Homo sapiens: one gene and its partner. The protein of the gene in region 1 purifies or fractionates together with the protein of each later gene. This does not show direct contact. Each region holds a gene or a part of one and is shown on either strand. Other genes may lie near its edges.

Region 1 (7,024 bases):
CACAGGTTGGCCCCCACAACAAACAATGATCTGGCCCAAAGTGTCAATAGTGTCAAAATTGAGAACCCTTGGTCTAAATCAACACAGAAGGGGAAAACAGGTCTCCTGCAATCCTGCTACCTCAACAAATTAAACACTTCACTTTTCTATGTTCCTCCCAGCCTCTGCCCCATGGTGTAAACTTCATTTTCCCAAGCTCTTCTAACCATGGCAGGAATATAGTTTAAATTCCACATTTCTTCACTTATTATTGTATCCTGGGCTGTTGTGCCTCTGGCCTCATTATCTTCTCACTTACCACTTTTAGTGGATGTAATACAATACTCCAGGCAGGTTGATACCCCATATTTCACCTGACCAGTCCGGGTTTCTCAGTGGGTGTTTTTTGGGGGGGACTTGCCAAATGGGCTGCATGGGGGTGGGGGTGACTTGAGCAGCCGTGCTGTGGGCAGCCACCTCCTCTTCCTGCAGCCCAGGCATCAGCATCGTGGTCCTCATCATCAAAAGCCCTTTATGAAGCACCTTGGTGAATATATCCTGGCACCGGGGGCATCTTCTGCAGAGTTCTTCCCACCAGCCCCTGACATGCAGGGCTTGCCAGCTCAGACAGACAGCATCTGTGTCAGCTCACCAAAAAGGCGTCCAAAAACTGGGCTGTAGGCCCCAGGCAGAGGGGTGAGAAAACGGATTCTTAGGCAAGATTCATGCCAAGAGTAAGTACGCCGGGGAATGCAAAGACAGGCTGGATTCCCAAAGGGAGCCTGGCCCTTGAATTCCCTCCCCCAGCTAGCTGGAGGCTTCTTGGAGGACAAGGGATTTTAGAAGCTACTGCGAGGGAAGGAGAGAGTGAGGGGAACAGCTTAACAGGTTAAGGACTTGGGGTCAAGCGTTCCAGGCACACAGAGCACGGCCTGGAAGATGTTTCTCCAGAGACCTTCGTGCCACCCTCTGGTCTCACCTCAGTGTCCTTTTCCTTTGCCTCTGCAGGTGTTCCATGAGCAAGGCATCCTGTTCGGCTACCGCCATCCACAGAGTTCTGCCACTGCCTGCATCCTCAGCCTTTTCCAAATGACCAATGAGACTCTCAACATTTGGACTCACTTGCTGCCCTTCTGGTACCTTCTGGCCCCCTCGACCGGCCTGTCTCCTTCAGGAGCCCTGGAGACCAGGGTGTCTTAAAACATGGCTAGTGTTGAGAGGGCTGAGATTCTGTGCTGGGGTTTGGGGATCCCCCGTGGGTACACGCGGGTGAAGGGAGTGTGTGACAGAGGGAAGAGACATTGGGTGTGCCACTGGGATGACCTTTAAGGCATGGACTGGGGTAAGATTTGAGGGGAAATCCCAAAAGTGCCTCAGTCCTTCCTGCTCCCTGCTCCGGTGCCTGATATGATAGCATTTACCTTCATCTCCGGTCTTGGAGACTTTCCAGGTCTTCCAGGAGCCCTGGTTAAAATGTCACTAGTTTGAGCAAGTCAACCTCTCTGAGCCTCTCATTTTCCTACCTGCAAAGCAGGAGTGATGGTCCGCACCTCCCCAAGGGTTGCTGTGAGGGTTTGGGGAGAAAACATTGGTAGAGGCATCTGCCACAGAGTTGTGGGTGTTCCGTAATCATTCTGGGAACCACGACAACTGGGAGGCACTTGGTCAGGCAGCCTGTAGATGGAGCCAGCTAAGAGCAAAGCTCTGGGAAGCCTGTATGCAGAAATGGAAGTGGCCAGGGAAGCGAAGAGGGGCCTTGCTGAGAAAGGTGGGGGATGAAGGCCAATGTCACACACTGCACACCTTTGCTTAAGGAATGGAGGATGGAGACAGGGTCAAAGCACCAAATCACAGTGGATCTGAGCTGGAAGAACTCAGAGGCCATTCAAGCCACTGTCCCACTCAGACCACCACTGGTCGATGTAGACACAGCCGAGAGACGGGGTGGCGTCCTTACGTCATGCAGGGGCGCCGTGGCACAGGCTGGTCACTGGACTCCCTCCAGTCATGTTGAGAAGAGATGAGGAGTGTGCCATGAGTGGAGATGGGCCCAGGCTCCCCGCACAGGGGCAGCCAGCCTGAGTAGAAGTCAGATGACAGACCCGGGGCCAAAATGCAGGGGCAGGCTGTTTGGTTCCAGCAGCCAGCTCAGTGGAGAGGGGAGAGAGCTCAGTCTGGTGTGGACTAGGGTGATCTGTAAAGGAGTGTGGCAGCCCTGGGCCTGCGGACTGGGCAGGGGTGGCAGCACAGCCCTGCTCCAGGGGCCATTTGTCATTTTTAAAAGTATACATGCTTACAAATTATAACCCTTCAGAAGGGAATAGAGTCAGGCTCTGCCACTGGCCCCAGTTCTCCTCCCTGGAGTGGCCAGGGGGACCTGCTTCCTATGCGTCCTCCTGGAGCTTTTCTGGGGGACCCAGGAGCATCTGTGCTGTGAGCATCCACAGCATCTGCCTCTTTCCCTGCTGCCTTCCTCTTACTTCCCTCCCTTGGAGATCTCACTCTGTCAGCATCTGCAATCTGCATGTCTCCTGGACTTTGGAACATCTGCTTGGTGTTCCATTTTCTGGATGAATCATGGTTGATTTAGGCTGTTTTGAGATTTGAGCTGCTAAAAGGGTACCAGCCTGTCCATCCCTGCTTGTGGGTCTTGCACTCCATGCATGGATCCCTGTAGGGTGATTTTTTGCTATGTTACAGCTGAGCCAAGCTGGGTGAGCCGCACCCCCATCACCTCCAGCACTGCCTATGCACTTCTACACGGTGCCAGGCTCTCAGAGATGATCCTGACTGAGCAACAGAGAGTAGCAGGAAGGACTTGGGGAGGTCTGGATCAAGATGCCCTAAGGAAATGGGACCACTGAAAAATTGAAATAACTGAAGGATACATTTTGAGAAACAGCAAATAGCTTAAGCTTTACTTCCCGCTGGGACAAAATTAAAAAGTCCACAAGTGTAGCTGGAAGGATTTAGCAATGTTCCTTCAGCTCCTGCATATGAAAAGCTTTGTAGAGTCTCCTCCCTTGGAGGAGTTAGTGAGAAAGGGAGCCAGCTCTCTAGGAGTGATTTGTGGAAGCGAGGTGCTCTGCAGGCGGGACCTCATGCGTGGATTGTAGGCCAGGCAGACCTGGTGAAGAATTTTGAAGTGTCTCTGCATAGAGATCTAGGCTCTGCTAAGAGTCAGCTGTGGGACTAGCTATTCCGAAAAGTGATTGTACTCTTAGTGGAGGAACAGTGTGGAGGAGGAGGGAGAAAATAGTTCTCTTGGCCTCGGCTTGCAAGGCTCCACCTGGGGCATTGCTTCTATTTGAGGAGCCTTCCTACAAGAGGGACATAGACAAACTACATGGAGGAAGGACAAACCACGGGGATGGTGGTAACGCCACATTTAGATCCTGCGAGGAATGGCTGAAGGAACCGGGAGTATTTAATGTGAAGTTCAAGGAGGTGGGAGGGGGTTAGAAAGACTGCCTTGAAATATTTGACAGGCGGCCGGGCGCAGTGGCTTATGCCTATAATCCCAGTACTCTGGGAGGCTGAGGCAGGCAGACCACAAGGTCAGGAGATCGAGACCATCCTGGCCAACATGGTGAAACGCTGTCTCTACTAAAAATACAAAAGTTAGCCAGGCGTGGTGGAGGGTGCCTGTAGTCCCAGCTACTTGGGAGGCTGAGACAGGAGAATCACTTGAACCCAGGAGGCAGAGGTTGCAGAGAGCCGAGATCGTGCCACTGCACTCCAGCCTGGTGACAGAGCAAGACTCTGTCTCAAAAAAAAAAAAAAGCATATATATATATATATATATATATATATATATATATATATATATATGTATGTATGTATATATGTATGTATATGTGTATATATATATGTGTGTATATATATGTGTATATATATGTGACCATATATATATATATATATATGACCATATATATATATATATATATATATATATATATATATATATATGCATATGTTAAGCTTGTTTTCTATGATCCTGGTGGAGGGAACTAAGGCCAATCAAATGGAGATAGATTCCAGGAGGACAGATTTGAGCCAATGAAGGAGAACTTTCCAGCCCTTGGAGCTGCTTTGGGAGGTAATGAGCCCCCCATCCCTGGAAGCATGCAAGCTGAGGCTGGAGAATCACTAGGGGATTGGACTAGATATACATAAAGCCTCTCTTCTTACTTCACCTGCCCATTCCCAACGTACTGCCTCCCAATTAAAAAAGGACCCCCCACCTTCCTAGCACATGGTATTTCCCCAAAGTGAGAACACGAAGGAATTAGTCACCGCGGGGGAATGGAGACAGTAGATAGGCGAGGATCTAAGAGGGGCTTCCATCATGGAGGGTGAGCAGGTCCTCCATGTTCATCATGGAGGGTGAGCGGCCCTGCGTGCTCATGGTGGAGGGTGAGCGGGCCCTCCGTGCTCATGGTGGAGGGTGAGCGGGCCCTCCGTGCTCATGGTGGAGGGTGAGTGGGCCTTTGTGTACATGGTGGAGGGTGACTGGCCCTCTGTGTTCATCGTGGAGGGTGAGTGGGCCCTCCGTGCTCATGGTGGAGGGTGAGCGGGCCCTCTGTGCTCATGGTGGAGGGTGAGTGGGCCTTTGTGTTCATGGTGGAGGGTGACTGGCCCTCTGTGTTCATCGTGGAGGGTGAGCGGGCCCTCTGTATTCATGGTGGAGGGTTAGTGGGCCTCTGTGCTCATGGTGGAGGGTGAGTGGGCCTTTGTGTTCATGGTGGAGGGTGAGTGGCCCTCTGTGTTCATCGTGGAGGGTGAGCGGGCCCTCTGTATTCATGGTGGAGGGTGAGTGGGCCTCTGTGCTCATGGTGGAGGGTGAGTGGGCCTCTGTGCTCATGGTGGAGGGTGAGTGGGCCTCTGTGCTCATGGTGGAGGGTGAGTGGGCCTTTGTGTTCATGGTGGAGGGTGAGTGGGCCTTTGTGTTCATGGTGGAGGGTGAGTGGGCCTTTGTGTTCATGGTGGAGGGTGAGTGGGCCTTTGTGTTCATGGTGGAGGGTGAGTGGGCCTTTGTGTTCATGGTGGAGGGTGAGTGGGCCTTTGTGTTCATGGTGGAGGGTGAGTGGCCCTCTGTGTTCATCGTGGAGGGTGAGCGGGCCCTCTGTATTCATGGTGGAGGGTGAGTGGGCCTCTGTGCTCATGGTGGAGGGTGAGTGGGCCTCTGTGCTCATGGTGGAGGGTAAACGGGGCCTCTGTGCTCATGGTGGAGGGTGAGTGGGCCTCTGTGCTCATGGTGGAGGGTGAGTGGGCCTCTGTGCTCATGGTGGAGGGTGAGCGGGGCCTCTGTTTTCACGGTGGAGGGTGAGCGGGGGCCCTCCGTGTTCATGGTGGAGGGTGTGTGGGCCTCTGTGTTCGTGGTGGAGGGTGAGTGGGCCTCTGTGTTCGTGGTGGAGGGTGAGTGGGCCCTCCGTGGGTGAGTGGGCCCTCCGTGTTCATCGCGGAGGGTGAGTGGGCCCTCCGTGTTCATGGTGGAGGGTGAGCGGGTCCTCCGTGTTCATGGTGGAGGGTGAGCGGGCCCTCCGTGTTCATGGTGGAGGGTGAGCGGGCCCTCCGTGTTCATGGTGGAGGGTGAGTGGGCCCTCCGTGTTCATGGTGGAGGGTGAGTGGGCCCTCCGTGTTCATGGTGGAGGGTGAGTGGGCCCTCCGTGTTCATCATGGAGGGTGAGCGGGCCCTCCGTGTTCATGGTGGAAGGTGAGCGGGTCCTCTGTGTTCATGGTGGAGGGTGAGCGGGCCCTCTGTGTTCATGGTGGAGGGTGAGTGAGCCCTCTGTGTTCCAGGTTCTTTGCATGGAGGTTTGTGACTGCACTGTATATGACAGACATCAAGAATGACAGCTACTCCTGGCCCATGCTTGTGTACATGTGCACCAGCTGCGTGTACCCACTTGTGTCCAGCTGTGCGCACACCTTCAGCTCTATGTCCAAGAATGCCCGGCACATTTGCTACTTCCTGGACTATGGTGCCGTCAACCTCTTCAGCCTGGGTATGTGAGGCCTTGTTCTTGCTTTCCTTCCCCTGCAACCGGGCTGTTTGCCCCTTCTCCTGTGAGCTAGGGTCACCAGAAGGCTTTGATGAGTTTGCAGAAGAATCCAGGGATTATGCCAGTGCCCCTGTCCAGGTTCCCAATGGGTGTTTTATAAGAAACTGTCCATAAGCATGCTGCTAAATATTTAGCCACTGGCTCTGTGGGGACAACAGCCCCGATCTGCAGTGTTGCCAGTTTCTGTGGTGTAAATCTTCCCATCATGTCCAGCTTCAACCTACTAACATGACATCACAGAACACAAGGGTGGGAAGAGATATGCGTAGCACACTATTACAGAAATTCCACCATGCAGATACAGTAGATGTAGTCATTGAGTACTCAGTACTTTTGTTAATATGATTTATTTAATTGCAAGTTTCTGTGATTTAATTTTTAATGATGGCTGTGTTCAGCACTCAGCTCTCTCACAGGCCAGAATGAACTGACTCCAGTACATCAGTGCTGGTCTCTGTCATGCCAGGCAAGAAGAGGAGGGTGAGGTCATGAGCCTCGTATATCCAGAGGCTTAGCACAATCAGAGAGATGCTCAGAGTGTGCGGGAATAGATCAGCAACCTAAGCTGGTGAAATTCGGTGCTGACCGCCCCCTCTTCCTTGTCTTTTTCTTTGACTATGATGCTCCCTCCTCTGGCCTCTTCTCTCCTCCCCTTGTGGGCATGCATCTATCCCTAAGGATATGAGTTCTAGATTCTTCCTCCAGGTCCCATTCTAGGTGAGAAAACCAATTATTGTCTTCCTTGCCCAAGAGGTTGTCCATGAGGAGCCTACCTCCATCCTCTTTCTTCATATACACACGTTCACACTCACACAAACACACACTCATGCACTGACACACACTGACACACACACATACAATGCACTCACACATGCACATACACACACTCACCACATATACACAATACACTTACATGCACACACACACACCACATGCCACATGTACTCACACATTGACACACACACAATACACTCACATAC
Region 2 (7,100 bases), on another chromosome or scaffold:
GGCCGGCCATGTGCTCATAATTTCACAGACGTCTCATGCAACCTTGGAAGTAGGCACACACTATCATTATCTCCATTTTACAGATGAGGCGACTGAGGTTGGGGAGGTACTAACATGCCCAAGGCCACGCAGAGAGCAAATGATTTGAACTCCGGCACCCAAGCTCTTGATCACTAAGCTAAGATAGTGTCCCCTCATGTGTGGGGGTGGAGGGGCACATGTGTGGCGTGTGTGCATGCATGGGTGCCCATGGTGTTTCCACCTGGCATTTTTCCTCCTTCCATCGTTTCCTTTCAAGCAACTGCATTTTCTCTCCCCTCCCTGTCTTACTCCTTTGGTTCTCCCCTTATGTCTGCTGCTCGTCCAGGTATGAGAGGACCTCATCACGGTCACTCTCATGTGTGCTTTAGCTGGGAAGAGCTGACTCTGGCCATGACTCTGGCCTGGCTGGCCTAGCTCCGGGATGGGGAAGAGCAAAGGGAAGGGGAGTGACAGCGTCTGGGAGGGGACAGCAGACGTGGGTGGGGCATTCTCCAGGGGCATTTGGTCTCCTGCTTTCCAATCCCTTCCTCCAGCCCAGTTCCTGGCACCCCTCATTTTTCTAAATGTCACCTCCTTCTCTTCTTTCTCCCCTCTTTTTCTCCTCCCCTTGCCCAGGAGCTAGTGGTGAGGGCATCTTGTGCCTGCAAAAGCAGGTACTTTTATTTATAGCTTCCAGAGGATCCAGCCCACACCTTCCTGTCAATTAAGCTTGCTCCAGAGCCTGGCACCTCTGTATTAACCTGTGAGTTGCCTGGATGGCAAGTACAGGGTGAAGGCTAAAGGTGATGGCCCTTACCTGCTCCAGGTGTCACTCAAGTCCTGTTTCATCTTAGCCTCCCACCCCACAGCCAAATGCCGGTGGCTTTGTGCATGGGGAATCCTATGGTAAATAAGCATGGCGGTGCTACCAGGCCCACCCCAAAATCAGGCAGATGGGATTGAGTGTCTGGAAACAACCCTACCATAATAAACCAGTTTGTAATTCATGGGGACAGGTGTGGAGCAGTGGGGAGTTACCATCTCTTGGGAACCTGGTGAGAAGCTCCCAGGGAGACACACATGTGCCCCTCACACACACACACGCACACACACACACGAACACAGACACACTCCTACCCAAGAGGCCCTGAGCGGCACCCACCCACACGCTCGGAGGCAGCCCACACTCGTCCCATGAGTAGGCACCTATTCCTGCCTCTCCTTGGAGTCCTCCTAGAAATAGGGGCAGCTGTGTTTGGCGGTAGGGGTCTCCAGGACCTGGGTGTCTGCTTGTCCCTCCCTCCCTACGGTTCTGGGAAAGCTGAGATGACATCCCCCCGCTAGCTTGGGAGGGTGGCAGTGAGTGAGCTGGGGTGGACAGAGGGGTGGGTGTGAACCCAAGTTCTCTACACCCAGAAGACTGGGGAAGGGCAGGGTGTGAGGGACAGGTTGAGGCAACACCCGAGAAACACCCACACTCCTGTGTGGATCCACCCCAAGACAGGCATGTACACACCCACACACAGGCAGGCACGCACGCGCATACACACATGCGCCAAGAGTGCCCACCCACCCGCGTCCCACACCTCCGCAGATGTCCTCACTCCCACACACCCATCTCCACATTCAGGTGCCTGCTGCCACCTTCCACATTCTAAGAATGCCCCACAGTTTTCCCTCTTCAATCTGTCACCTCCATGCACACCCAGACATGTTCATGTCCACAGGCTCACGCACACACACGTCCACGCACACCGCCTCACAAGCCATATGTGGGGAAAAGAGGATGCCACAGGCACCAACATGCATGTGTGCCACCTCCACAAGAAGGCACGCAACCCACACGCCTGCCGGCACACACATGTGTGTTCATACACACAGCAGCCCCCGCCCGAAGTCTGGTATTCTCTCTCGAATCATCTCCAGGCTCAAAGACAGACTTTGAAAATGTGTTTGCCTCTGGCCACACTCTGCCAGCCCTGAGCCTTCATGCCAACAGGTTTGTGCACCTACGTGGCTCTGCCCACAGACAATGGTTTCTGCCCCTTCTTCTCTTTACCCACTCCATCCTGCTCTGGGTCTCACCTCCCCATATAGAAAGCCCCTGTCTGCATACACTCCCACACACATGAAAAGGGACATGGTTACCCCTAAATATACTGCCTCATAGTGTCCCCACCCACGCACACCCACAGGCTACTCAAATAAGTCCCCCACACACATGTACCTCACGTGTGCCAGAAAGATATGTTTCTAGACATGCCTCACACCATTCAAAACCCACACATGAGCATGACTGCGGACAGACGGACCTATCTGCGCCAGCAAGCCTCCAGCCAACTCGCGAGCGCGCACACACACACGCCGCGCACACCGGTGCCCCTTCCCCATGCCCATTCAAACAGCCACCCTGCCACAGGGAATGCTTCCCCCACCCTGCTGTCCCTGTTGGCATCGCTGACTGCAGCAGAACGGTCACGGGGTGACTAACTGTGGTGCCCCAGAGACTGGATTCAGCCATTAACCACTTTGCCAAAGGCCTGGCCGGGGGGGGGGAGAGGGGACAAGGTCGTCAGGCCTGGCAGTCCAGGTGGGCACCCTGGGTGGTGGCAGGACCCTAGAGCCCCCAGATCCCGGCTACTCAGGATCAACAGCAGCAGGTTCCAGGGAGGAAGGGTACTCACCTGGCTCCACTGGGCTCTGCAGAGGAAAAGCTCGCAGGGAGGACAGGGAGAGACCTCTGCGTGGATGAGCTCCCCGGCAGGGGACAGCAGCCGGACGCCTGGGTCACGGGCAGTGGCGTGCGCTTGCTCCTCTCCCGGCTGCCAAGGAGGCTGCTTCCATGCCCCGCAGCCAGCTCCTGTCTGGCTGTGCAGCGCGTCGCTGCTGCCCCTGGTGAGACGATGTTCCCAGCTGAGCAGCGCAAGAAGAGAGGCAAGAGCGAAATCAAAGCAGCGTGGAGGAGAGAGAGGCAGAGAAGGGAGAAAGAACGAGAGAGCCAGACCGAATCTGCCTCCACCAATGGGATCAGCGGCTGCGCAGCGTCAGGTGATAATAAGCAGGCTTGGTCCCTGCTCGCCGGGCTGGTGGGAGGGGGAAAGGGCAGAGGGTCTCCCAGGGAGCTACACAGATGTCCTCAGGGACAGCAACACACGCCGCCTTTCCCCCATTCTTCCAGGACAAGCTGCCCTCAGAAGTCCCTCCAACACACCCCCTACTTGGAAATCTCTGACTTGAATGCAGCCCCCAAACTTTAGGATGCTGGGAGAGGGGTGGAGCTTAGCCAAGGGCTTGGGCCCCAAAGCAAAGACTCTGATTGGGGGAAGGGGAGGGAGGCTGTAGAGGGGAAAGGTCCAGATGGGGGGTGTGAAGCTGGGGTGGCTGTCTTCAGTCCGGAGCCTCTCCTTGGGGCCTTTTGGTGAACTGTGGTTCCATTTTCTTACCAACTCTAGAGAGAGATGGCAGACCTGCAGCTCAGGGATCCCTGTGGGTCTGGCAAGAACCCTCTGGCAGCTTGGGGGTCCACAGGAAAAGGGGCTGGGAGAGAGGCTGTGGCACAGTGCAGGGTGCACAGGGGTAAGAAAATGGGGGTGGGAGAACACACCAAGCTCTGAGTGTCCTCAGCCCACCCCACTCTCTGAGCACAAAGGAAGCCGGCCCTGGGCATCTTGGGGAGAGAATGTAATTCTGCTCTCACGGCAGCAGGAGGCTGTTCTGCCATCAAGAAGCAGACTCCGTGGAGGCCATCGGGAAGAACATCCAAGGAAATGTGAGTCCAGCAGCAAGCAGGGACAGAGGGTTGCGCAGTGGTGAAAAGCACAGGCTCACAGTCAGATGGATGTGCTGAGAATCCCTGCTCTACTGCTACCCAGCTGGGGGACCTTGGACAAGCCACTCAACCTCTCTTCATCTGTCAAGTGGGATCACACAGGTTTATTGTCATCATGGAATGAAATAATTAGGTAAATCGCCCAGCCCTGGGCCTGGCACATCAGAAGTGCCAGTCACATGTCAGAACTGTTCTTGTTCCCATCATATCGACAGCATCTTCCTGCAAGGAGCCCACAGTCCTCTACGGGAGAGAAGATGGCCATTTAGAGGATGCAATTAGAGAATGAGGAGCACACAACTAAATCGTAGGGCACAGATACTCATTCAGAGAAAGAACAATGGGCGGCTCCAGGGCACGTGCAGGGTGCAGGCCAGAGGAGGCTGTGGAAGCAGGAGTGCGGCTGGGGTGGGGAGGATTGGCACGGGGGCAGCTGACACCAGGCAGGCCCAGGGTGAGGTCTTGGTGAGCAGGAGAAGGTGTGAGCTGAGCCTAAGAAACACTCACCAAGAGGGAGTTGAGGCGGCAGGCCTCAGTGCAAAAGTCAGAGGAGGTAACAGCAGCAGAAAGTGAGAGTTCACAGAATGCAAAGACAAGCAGAAGCCAACCCTGCCTGAAACGGCTGTGAGAACCTCAGTGAGCCTGGCCAGGTCCTGAACTGCCGAATGTGGGGTGGTGCGTGGCACTGAGGCAGGACTAAGCACCCCCTTGGCCAAGCATGACTACGTCCTGCTCCGACATACCCACGCCGAGCTGGTGAGCTCAGAAGAGATGCAAAACGTAACCTCCTGGTGATGGCCAGCACATGACATCTGGACTACAATTCTGTCCCAGGCCGGGCGCAGTGGCTCACAAGAATCCGAACACTTTGGGAGACTGAGGCAGGCAGATCACCTGAGATCAGGAGTTCGAGACCAGCCTAGCTAACATGGCGAAACCCCATCTCTACTAAAAATATAAAAATTAGCTGGGTGTGGTGGTGGGCGCCTGTAATCCCAGCTACTTGGGAGGCTGAGGCACAAGAATCGCTTGAACCCGGGAGGTGGAGGTTGCAGTGAGCCAAGATTGCACCACTGCACTCCAGCCTGAGTGACAGAGTGAGATTGTGCCTCGAAAAATAAATAAATAAATAAATAATAAAATCCTGTCCCTAGGACCACACAGAGGGGCAGTGCAAGGAAAAAGGCAGGTTCTCTGTGACTTGGTTTCCCCTTCTGCCAAAGGAAAACTAGCCCCAGCACCATCCCTGCCTCCCACCTTCTCGGGATGTCATGAGGAGACTGCACGAGGTCCTGTGGCCCAAGCATGAGCAATAGCCATCTGAGCGCCCCTTTGTGGAGCTGCGTGCCGGCGACAGGTGAAGGCACAGCCCTTTAGGAGCTTCTGCCTCTTCTTGCCTCAGAGGACTTCTCTACAGATCACGAGAGGAAACACGTGGTAAGAGCAAACCATAGTGTGCCAAGTATAACTCACTCCCTATGAAACCAAACAACCGCCAAGATGCACTTCTGCTGCATTTTTATTTTTCATAACTTTTTATGACACAAGTAGCACATGATCATTGTAGAGAGACGAGCACATTTCATTTTAAAATTTAAGAGGGAATTTAAATCTCTCATTTTCCCACCATGCAGAAATACACATTAAATACATATAAAGAATTTTTTTAATTAATTTTTTTCGAGACAGGGTCTTGCTCTGTCACCCCGGCTGGAGTGCAGTGGCGCAAACTTGGCTCACTGCAACCTCTGCCTCCCTGGCTTAAGTAATCCTCCCACCTCAGTCCCCTGAATAGCTGAGAGTATAGGCGCACACCACCACACCTGGCTATTTTTTTTATTTTTTGTAGAGATGGGGTCTCACTGTGTTGCCCAGGCTGGTCCCAAACTCCTAAATGCAAGCAATCCACCCGCCTTGGCCTTCCAAAGTAGTTGGGATTACACAGGTGCGAGCCACCACACCCAGCCAATACTTGTATAGAATTTATTAACAAAAATAGAATGAAAGAATGCTGTTTTGTAACCTGCTTTTTTCACTTACCAATATCTTTTCTGTTCATCATATAACCTTTTTTTTTTTTTTTTTTTTTTTTTGAGACAGAGTCTCGCTCTGTTGTTCTGTCTCCCAGAACCTGGGAGGTGGAGGTTGCAGTGAGCCAAGATCACGCCACTGTACTCCAGCCTGGGTGACAGGGTGAGACTCCATCTCAACAACAAATTTTTTTTTTTTTTTTTTTTTTTTTTTTGTAGAGACAGGCTCTCACTATGTTGGTCAGGCTGATCTCCAACTCCTGGTCTCCAGTGATCCTCCTGCCTCGGCCTCTCAAAGTGCTAGGATTACAGGTGTGAGCCACCATGCCCAGCTGATCAACTCCATTTTAAAAAGGTGGAGGGTGGGAAAGAGGACTCAGGCCATAAGTAGTAAAACTAGTTAGTATTCAAATTCAGGTCTGTCTGAGTACCAAGGCCAGATTCCTCGTGGTAGAAAGATGCATAGCAAATATAGAGTCTGATGTAATAGAGAATGAGACTATAAGCAAAACATATTTACAGTCTTAATATTGCTTATGCACTTTATAGATTTAAAATGTTTATGTGTATTTCCCTATGGCTGAACTCAGTGTGGGGATCCGGTGAGCCAATGAATGCACATACATCAGGTAGTCCGTGGAAACCACTTTTGTCCTTTACATGTGTTTACAATGACAAGAGTGGGCCATGAGTATTTATAAGAACTACATGGATTTCTCAGTGCTTATTTCCTTTTCTTTTCGATATTATGTTTAGACAACCTATAACCTTCACTGGTCATCTATTTTAATGAAGAGCATTAACCTAATTCTAAAAACATTTACTAAACTAAAGAAAAAGTATTTTATGGCTGGGTGCAGTGGCTCATACCTGTAATCTCAGCTCTTTAGGAGTCTGAAGTGGGCAGATCACTTGAACCCAGGAGTTCGAGACCAGTCTGGGCAACATGGTGAAACCCCGTCTTCACAAAGAGTACAAAAATTAGCTGGGCATGGTGGCATGGGCCTATAGTCCCAACTACTCTGGAGGCTGAGGCAGCAGGATTGCTTGAGCCTAGGATTTGGAGGCTGCAGTGAGGCATGATCGCTTCACTGCACTCCAGTCTGGGTGACAAAGCGAGAACCTGTCTCAAAGATATATATATTTTAGATTTTGTAGAAAACTTAAATATTTAACCACTTTAAGACATGGGAAAATGCTGAATTATATTAAAGGACTCA

The links.
Region 2: the proteins of PAQR5 (region 1) and PHYHIP purify together in Homo sapiens (affinity purification with mass spectrometry; 3 studies listed by BioGRID and IntAct, with this or other methods). This does not show direct contact.

Annotation. Positions count from the first base shown.
Region 1 is NC_000015.10:69,378,896-69,385,919, forward strand, and holds part of PAQR5 (membrane progestin receptor gamma), read left to right. Parts: intron 1-560; exon of another isoform or gene 561-704; coding exon of another isoform or gene 705-713; intron 714-987; coding exon 988-1,115; intron 1,116-5,781; coding exon 5,782-5,987; intron 5,988-7,024. UniProt on the Homo sapiens protein: Plasma membrane progesterone (P4) receptor coupled to G proteins. Seems to act through a G(i) mediated pathway. May be involved in oocyte maturation.
Region 2 is NC_000008.11:22,229,091-22,236,190, forward strand, and holds the start of PHYHIP (phytanoyl-CoA hydroxylase-interacting protein), read right to left. Parts: upstream 3,010-7,100; 5' UTR 2,706-3,009; intron 1-2,705. UniProt on the Homo sapiens protein: Its interaction with PHYH suggests a role in the development of the central system.